2 linked regions of the Homo sapiens genome follow. The protein of the gene in region 2 interacts with the protein of the main gene of each other region in a biochemical or structural test. Each region holds a gene or a part of one and is shown on either strand. Other genes may lie near its edges.

The links. Proteins that work in one complex are often made in the same cells at the same time.
Region 1: the proteins of NUP54 (region 2) and KPNB1 form a complex in vitro, tested with the Homo sapiens proteins (one study listed by BioGRID).

What each region holds. Positions count from the first base shown.
Region 1 is NC_000017.11:47,683,462-47,686,585, forward strand, and holds the end of KPNB1 (importin subunit beta-1), read left to right. Parts: 3' UTR 1-2,044; downstream 2,045-3,124.
Region 2 is NC_000004.12:76,133,583-76,139,276, forward strand, and holds part of NUP54 (nucleoporin p54), read right to left. Parts: intron 2,831-5,694; coding exon 2,604-2,830; intron 781-2,603; coding exon 593-780; intron 1-592. UniProt on the Homo sapiens protein: Component of the nuclear pore complex, a complex required for the trafficking across the nuclear membrane.

The sequences.
Region 1 (3,124 bases), on a different chromosome or scaffold from region 2:
TGTATTGTGGCAGTCTGAACGCCCCCAGAAAATTGTGCCAAAGAGTTTAGAAAAATAAATATACAATAAAAGTAAACACATACACACAAAACAGCAAACTTCAGGTAACTATTTTGGATTGCAAACAGGATAAATTAAATGTTCAAACAATCTGATAAAATAACCATTTGGAAACTGCTTGGCCTTCTGTTCTTTTATTTGATTGACTACAATGCGGTATTGGTCTCTTGCTGCACTTCAAAAGCAACCAACAAAACAAAAACAAAAAAAAGTGTGTGTTGTGTGAATACACACACACACTAACTAGAAGTCTTGTGATGAAAATGGCACTTGGAAAAGGTTTTATTTTTCCACTGAAGTTGAAGGTTAATAAAATGGTGTCAAACGTCCCCTGGTCACACACTTGAATATTTTTTTAGAAGTGTGATGTGGTATGATTACCATAAATCAGACTTAATTATTTTCCCTTTTACAAGGGAACAGGGCATCCTGAATTTTAGAGCCTTTCAGCAATAAGAAGGGATGTTGGTGAGCTTTGATCCTCTTTTGGTTTTGCAGTTGTTAGGAGTTTTTGCTGGCATTTTGAATATGCTGCTTTCAGAAAAACCAAGGAAGTTTTAAAATTGCTTCCTGGTCCTTAGAGGACTAAAAACAAGACCCTCATTCCCACTTTCATTTCCACTCTAGCAAAAACTGGGCTTGCGTTTTTCTCCAACTCCTCGTTTATATCCTCCCTTCCATGTCCAAGCCTTCCATTCCTAAGTGGGATTGGCTCAGTTTTGCCCATCCATATGGCAGCATCTCTAATAGCTCTTGTACAGGGTATCAGATATTGTGCCTTTTGGTGCCAGGTTCAAAGTCAAGTGCCGATCTATGAACCAGTGTACAAAAAAAAAAAAATCCAGGTATTTGAAGGAGAGACGCTCCATTGTGAATAAAGAGCTCATACCAGCTCCTAAGCCCTATTAAGAAGAGGCCTGGTCCTCTAATGCCTTGTTTCCATTTCAGTTGTTCTTTGAGAGACAGAATGATGTACTAACCATTCGTGATTATTAAGATAGGGTTGGGTCAGGGCTTAGGGAGGGGGCAGAAATATTGGGGATAGAAAAAAAATCTGATCATTCCTCAGTGCTACCCATTTCTGTCCTGTGTGGGCTGCTTAGCTAGACAGCAGGAGAATAAAGTACACCGAGAACCATAATGAAAAAACCTTCCGTGTGTTTTGTCATGTTTTGTTCCAGGGAAGCAGTTGATGAGTGCTGTTACTAATGCTTTCTCCCAGATCCATTCAGTGGTGGAGAGGAGGAAAATGGGCTGGTTGGATGTGGTCTTGGTGCCTTGCAGTTACTCTGCACTGGTTATGCATTTAATTCTCCTCTTTTCTAGTTAACCTTTTGCCAGTGGGTTTTCCATAGTCTGGGTATTTGTCCTTATATCAGTTATACCACCTAAGGCAACTGGGTGCAAAATGCATTCTGTTCACTCACTGTCTGGGCCTTCCCCACCCTAGTCTTGGCACATTCCTTCAAGAATGTAGTTACCGTCTGCTTGGGAAGATGTCAGTGCAAATGTGAAGATAATGGGCATCGGACTAGGCTTTGGTTTGCCACAAGTGGCAGCTGCCTGTATCAATTACATTTATTAATTTTGCTTTTCATTTTTCCCAGTTCTCCTCACCCCCCCTTTGTTGAAATGTTGGACTTGCTGTCAGAGGCAACTGTAATATTGCCTTAGGGACTTGTGGAGAAGGGGAATTGCTCAGTGTAGTGTTTTAACTTTCAGAACCAAGCAATCTATTTACTCTTACAAATATTTAAGAAGTGTGTTAGTCCAACTTTAAGAAAAATCCAAACTCATCAGCTTTTGATAGCATCTTGGTTTTTGAAACAACTTCAATCTGTAATTGGCATTCAGAATGCCCTTGGCATGCCAGTCTGTGATGGCATTTAAGACCTGTAAAACACTTGAGCCCAACTCGATTAACCAAAACCGATAACCACCACCTTTATCTTCTAAATAAAGTCCGCTTTATTTTTATTTTCAACATCTTGCTGCTTTTTTTTTTTTTTTTTGTCCCAAATGGTGTCACCTCCATGGAGGTGAAATGGTTTGAAAGTCAGAATGTGTGGTGAGAGGTGTTTGTGTATGTATGTGTGTGGGGAAAAGGAGGGACACACATCTTGAAATGGATATTACATAGTGTAATGTGATATAGATGAAACAGTGTCCTACAAATGAGGTAAGGAAAAAGTATGCATGGAGGATGTTTCGTGTTTGGAGAGTTTGAAGCATTCCTCATCAGTAAAACAGGAATACTGACTAAGGTTGTTCTGCAAATTAAAACATAAAATCTCAGTGTTTACCATTTTTCACTTCAGGTGGGCCAAGCTGGCACCTTGGAGGCCAGGTGGAACTGCAGGCTTGCACTGTGTTTCTGAGTGTTTGTATTGGGACCAGGTATACGGTAATGGGGTTTCTTGTGGGAGCAGTTGCTCCTTCTCTGCCATTTGATGAACTAATTGCATTCTTTTCTCAAATCTCACCTTCAGTGGAGAAATGTTCTCAGTGAATCATTGTCCTCTGTTTGTGCCTATTTCTCAAGCTAATTCCGTGTCTAATGGATCATCCAAAAGTTGGCCTTTCACTTAGTTTTCATCATGTATTTCATTTCTACTTGCATTTCCCCCCCTCAAGAAACTTAGAACACTAGTTTGAGATTTAGGAGACTAGGCCCTTTCCTTTAACCCTGCTGCTTATTAGCGTAGTGGTGCCTGCAGGCTAGTTCATGGAAATACACCCTTTCTTAGTTAAGCAAAGTAAGGGCTGTAGACTCCCTTTTCTGATTGTACACCCTGTTAGTAAACTTTTGATCATGCATACCCCATGTGTTTATAAATAACATACTTGGACTACTATAACCACATATTGTGTAATCATAAGACACAAAAATAGAAAGTAAAAAGCAATTACATGATAAATAGAAGTTCTAGTATTTCTAAATCCAATTTGGAGGTTACTGAGTTATAGAGAGTAAATTTTTACCAGACTGCATTAAGTCCTGAACAGCAATGATTCACTGAGAACATTTCTCCACTGAAGGTGAGACTTGAGAAAAGAATGCAAT
Region 2 (5,694 bases):
AGGCGTGAGCCACCGTGCCCGGCCAATAAGATAATATTTATAAAAGGGTTTGCTTAGTTGCAAAATCCTATGTAAATGTTATTTACTATAGGAAATTCTGTTGAAATTTATGGGCTGCTTCTCTGCAATTACAACCACAAGTAAAATCTGTTCAATTATTGCATCTCATTAATAATCATTCCTCCAAATATCCTAAAATAAATGTCTTGCCACTAACACTGAGAATTATACTTAGGTCAAGGGAAGTAAAGCAATAATATTTATTCATGAATGAACATGAACAGTAATGAGTTAATAACATTTTCCAATAACATCTTTATGGCCCTCAATTTGCACGCATCTATGACAAATGGTCCCTTCCTGGCCTGAATGAAAATCTAGAAAATTATTAGCATCTAGTAAGTTAAAAAATCCAAAATTTTAAAAAAACTTTTAAATAAATGTTTTTATCAATACTGAATAATCACTAGCTGAGAAAAGGCATTCTGCTCTGAGAGTTAATTTGTGCTTTAGCAACAAAAACATTATTGATCACTCCCTTAGGACCAGAAATAAATACACAGAAATAAACAGTATATTTATGTATACTTACTGATCATCTGGCAATGTTTTAGTGCCCTCTACATTTACAGTAAGGGTCTGGTTTCCTCCCAAAACTTTATGCAATGATTCTACCAACTGTTGTTGTTGGCTTCGAATCTCTGTTTCTTTTTTGTTGAAAACTAAAACCACTAGCCCATCTTCATCTTTATTACTGGGCATGCAACTATAACCTACTGCCTGTGGAATGACAAAATAAACAATATAAAAAATATGTACAGATCTTAAATCAGGTGTTTAATATTAATAGCTTAATATCTGCTAAAATGGGAAAAACAACTTAATGTCTGGTAATTAAGGGAATAATGATTCTTCCCACCATTTTGTGCCCTAGGAGGTCACAAAATTATAAAGAAAAACTATTTTACCCAGGAATAACATTAACCTATAGAGTAAGATTAACATTTCCTCTTTGAGAGAGTAACTAAACAGCTTTCTCCCCTAAAAAATTTTGATATTCATTATTGTTGGTTGTTTCTGAACCATCTGCATGTCATTATAAAAGTGACTGCAAAAATCACCAACTAATTATAATTTATTTCACTATACAGATTCTCAACTTATGATTTTTCCATTTTATAGGGTGTGAAAGCAATACGCATTCATATATACATACATGTAAACCATACATGGAATTCTGATCTTTTAGTTTTTATTATAAAATTATTATTATTATAAGATGGACTTGATGTTAGATTATTCTGCCCAATTGTACACTAATGTAAGTGTTCTGAGCATGTTTAAAGTAGGCTAGGCTAGGCTATGATGCTTGGTAGGTTAGGTGTATTAAATGCATTTCTGAATTACAATATTTTCAATTATGATGGGTTTATTGGGATGTAACCCATAATAAGTTGAGGAGTATCTGTATATCTGATTCATGGAATCTTAAACTAAGTTTTAAATATATAAAGAAGTAATTTACAAATAAATACTTTTAAATCACAGTAATGACAGTCAACTTACAAATACTATAAAGAATGTCTGTATCACTTTATTGGTTTATATAATACAAAACTTTATGAAACAGGGTTGTTGTTTTTTTACATATTAATATGACCAATTATACTTTTCTAAATAATTGCTCTTTTAGATAGAAGCCTTTTATCCCTTTTCACCACTCACCTGCAACTTTTAAAAAAGAATTTAAATTAACTCAAGTGTACATTATGCATTTTACCATGTTATACACCAACTTTATTGTTATATTCAACTTATGTCTATTATTGAATACCTCTTAGCGACTAAATACATGTATCAAAATTTCAACTATATGCACTCAATATACTTTTTGTTAGTGATGACACAAAGAGATGTTCTGTAATAAGACAGGCTGACCACTTTATTCAAGGATCTGATCCTCAGCCTTACAGCTCCAAACACAGGGTTATGTACATATTGATTAGGTTTAAGAGACCAACGTAGGCCAATATAACTCCTAAGAGGCTGAGGTATAAACTGGATTGCAATACGTAATTTGTTATGGAAAATGCATTACCAAATGGACCTAAATACTCTCACTGGCTGATAAAGAGATTTTCTGAAGAGACAAATGAGAAGGTTGTTTGGTAGGCAGGGAATAAGAACACAGAAAATGGGCAATATTGTTTTAATAGCTTTGGGGTTATACATGCCAAGGGGAATTTCTGTCTGCTGGTTAGGGTATACTCTCCTGGCCAATGTTAAATGAATACCACTAAATTGTAGTTTGGTGTCTCCCCTTTACAGGTGCCAGGCAAACCATTCTCCTGTTTACATTTTTTTTCTTCAGTTATAAATCACATTCCAGTCACACCTTCCTTCATTCATATTCTGGTCACCTTCAACCACACATATGTATGAAATCACTTCAATTTTATAATTTCTATATTTTCAAAATAAAAGTATAATCATACCATGTTCAAGGAGTAAAGATCCAAGCAATTGTTATCTTGATATTAATCTAAATATATTTTCTGTTATACAAAATCTTCAACTGAAGATAAAAATAGTATTAATAATACCTTAAATCGGCAAAAGGGATTTTCTTGTGTGAATTCCACTGGCGGAATATTATTGTTGAAATACCCTTTTCCTGTTCCCCAAAAGGCCTGCAGTTGATTCCATTTTGCCAAAATAGCATCTCTCTCATCTCCCAACAGCGTTGGAGCAGAAAGAGCACTCGCAGTATTTATCAGCTGGTTGGACTGGGTAGGAGCTTGTGTAGGCTGACTGAAGAGACCACCTAATGCTAAAAATGTACCCAAAATTAGTATTTAAAAACAAAACAAAACAAAACTTAATCCAGATCCTAGGCGTGGTAGGCAAAATAATGGCCCCCTCCAAGATGCCCATATCCTAATCTACAGAACCTATAAATATGTTATCTTACATAGCAAAAGGGCCTTTGTAGATGTGATTAAATTAAGCATGCTGAGATAGAGGGTTATCCTGGATTATCAGGAGGGACTCAACGTAATCATAAGATCCTCAAAAGTGGAAGAGTGCGCTCAGAGTCAAACAGATCTGAAGATGCTATGCTGTTGGCATATGGCAAGATGGAAGAGCCGCGAGCCAAGAAATGCAGGAAGACTCTAAAAACTGGAAAATGCAAGAGAATGGATTCTCCCTTAGTGCCTCTAGAAGTAACGCAGTACTGCCAGGACCTTCATTTTAGCACAGTGAAACCCACTTCTGGACTTCTAATCTCCAGAAACTATAAAATAATAAAATTTTATTGTCTTAAGCCACTAAGTTTGTGGTAATTTGGTATGGCAGCAATAGGAAACTAACACACTAGGCCAAACCTTATAACGTTAAATTTGTTTTTCTAATAATATTTTTTTGAGACAGGGTCTTACTTTGTTGCCTAGACTGGAGTGCAGTGGCAAGATCATGGCTCACTGCAGCCTCAACCTTCTGGGCTCAAGCAATACCCCTGCTTCATCATCCTGAGTCGCTGGGACTACAGGAGTGCACCAATGTGCACCTGGTTAATTTTTTAAAATTATTTTTTGTAGAGACAGGGTCTTACTATGTTTCCCATGCTGGTCTCAAAACTTCTGAGCTCAAGCGACTCTCCTGCCTCAGCTTCCCAAAGTGCTGGGATTATAGGCATGAGCAACTGTGCCCAGCCCTAATGATGTTATCCAAATTAATTCCATTACCAGAACACAGATTGGGTCCACAATATTAAACCTACACATGAAAGAATGGAGGGAGGGAGGAAGGGATGCATGTGGATAAAAAAAAGTTTGTAAAGATGTAGGATTTTTTAAAATAACCTTTATTGCTGTTATATTTATATAATAAATACAAATTGGGGGATACAAAGTCTAAAAATCATTGTTATATCAAATACCAGCTTACTAAACATTTTCCTTTCTCTCATTATTAAAAAATATATATAGTAATAACAAATGGATTAACCATCAGTATTCTAGGCTAAAACTTTAGATGGCTGTGTAACTTTGGGCAAATCAACCTCTCTGGGATACCAATTTCTCTAATGGAAAGAAGGGCCAAGTTCTTAGGGCAGATAAATATGCCCCAAAGTGTGAGATAAGTATGTCATCTTTCAACAAAGCGAGGAGCAAGTCTAAGGCTCAGAGCTTAAGGCAAAGTTATCTACCTAGAATTTATTTACACTATATTTTCTTTGTACTTAATTTCAATTACCTTTTCCTTAGAGCAAATGATACTAATTTTCCACTTATAGCAGCAATAAATTTTACTTTAAAATAACTGTATTTCGTGTTTCAAAGTAAACTGATTTAAAGAAAATTCTTAAATAGTAATACAAATGGTATGTAGATGAGGAGAAAACGTGAATACCAAAATGACCTGAGTTTTAAAACACTGTATTAGATATTGTTTAAGTTCTCTTTCAGCTCTAAACATTGAAAGTACCACAAGGTCCATGGAGCTTCTACAGAGCTAGAGAGAGGCTCTTTTACTCTCCAGAAAAGTATTAATTCCCAAATTAGTATATATAAACATTGGCAAGAACTGGACTAGAACTCAGAACACTTGAATCCTGGTTTATTATAAGGTCGCTTTCTATCCTTGAGCAAGAAATTCCTGGGCTTTATCTTCCTCAACTTTTACATGAGATGAATCAACTGTGATCTCTATACCGAGACATATGCAGTCAGCCTCCCATGCTGTTGATTATTCCTTTGGCCCCCAAAGAAAATCTTCACCTTCTGTTGAATACACATCCTCCTTGAAAGCCCTTCTCCCTTAAATTTCCTGACAACACAGTCTCTCTTGGTTTTTTATAAACACATTCATTCATTCATTCACCATTAATTCATACAACAAATATTTACTGAGTACCTACTAAGTGCTCAGAGCCAAATACTAAAGATACAGTGGTAAACAAGGTAGACAAGGTGCATTAAACAAACTGAACACATCAAACAAATATTAACAATTGTGATAAGTCCTTCAGAGAAGTACAGAGGTTCTGGGAGTACTAAATAAGGGAGCTGATCAAGCCTGAGAGAGGGGTCAAGAGAAGACAGTTCCATTAGCACTTCAGTTAGGGCCTAAAGGAAGGAGTCAGCTAAGCCATGGGGTAGAGGTAAAGGCCAACAGTATGTGTAACATCTCTGTAGAGACAGAGAGAGGAAGATGAGTGGACAAAAGCAATAAGGAGGACTAACAATGAGGTAGGAAAAAACTAGACTGGAGTGTCACAGAAGTTAAGGTCTCCCACTGGCCAAATGCAACAACTGAAACATATTTATTAAAGCCCATGCATTCAAAATGGTAATTTTATAAAGTAAAGATCAAATTTTTTTTAAATCCTAACTCCTTGGATACCATTAGAAATAATGAGACCGCCAACTCCTTTTTACAAAAATTGTCCATTAAAAAGAAAAAAAATTATCTTGCCTTTACTATACAAACTGTACATCAGGGTGATCAAGCAGTCTTGGAGGATGAAGAAAAAGTTCCTTTTACAGAAGAAATTTCAGTGTGATAGGGAGGAAATTAGAAAATCACCATTTTGCAACTCCTAATAAGATAACTGATTGAGGCAATGATCATCAAGGAATGAAACCATTAGGTTAAAGTAGTAAGATAAAGATACGCTGTCACCATCTGAAC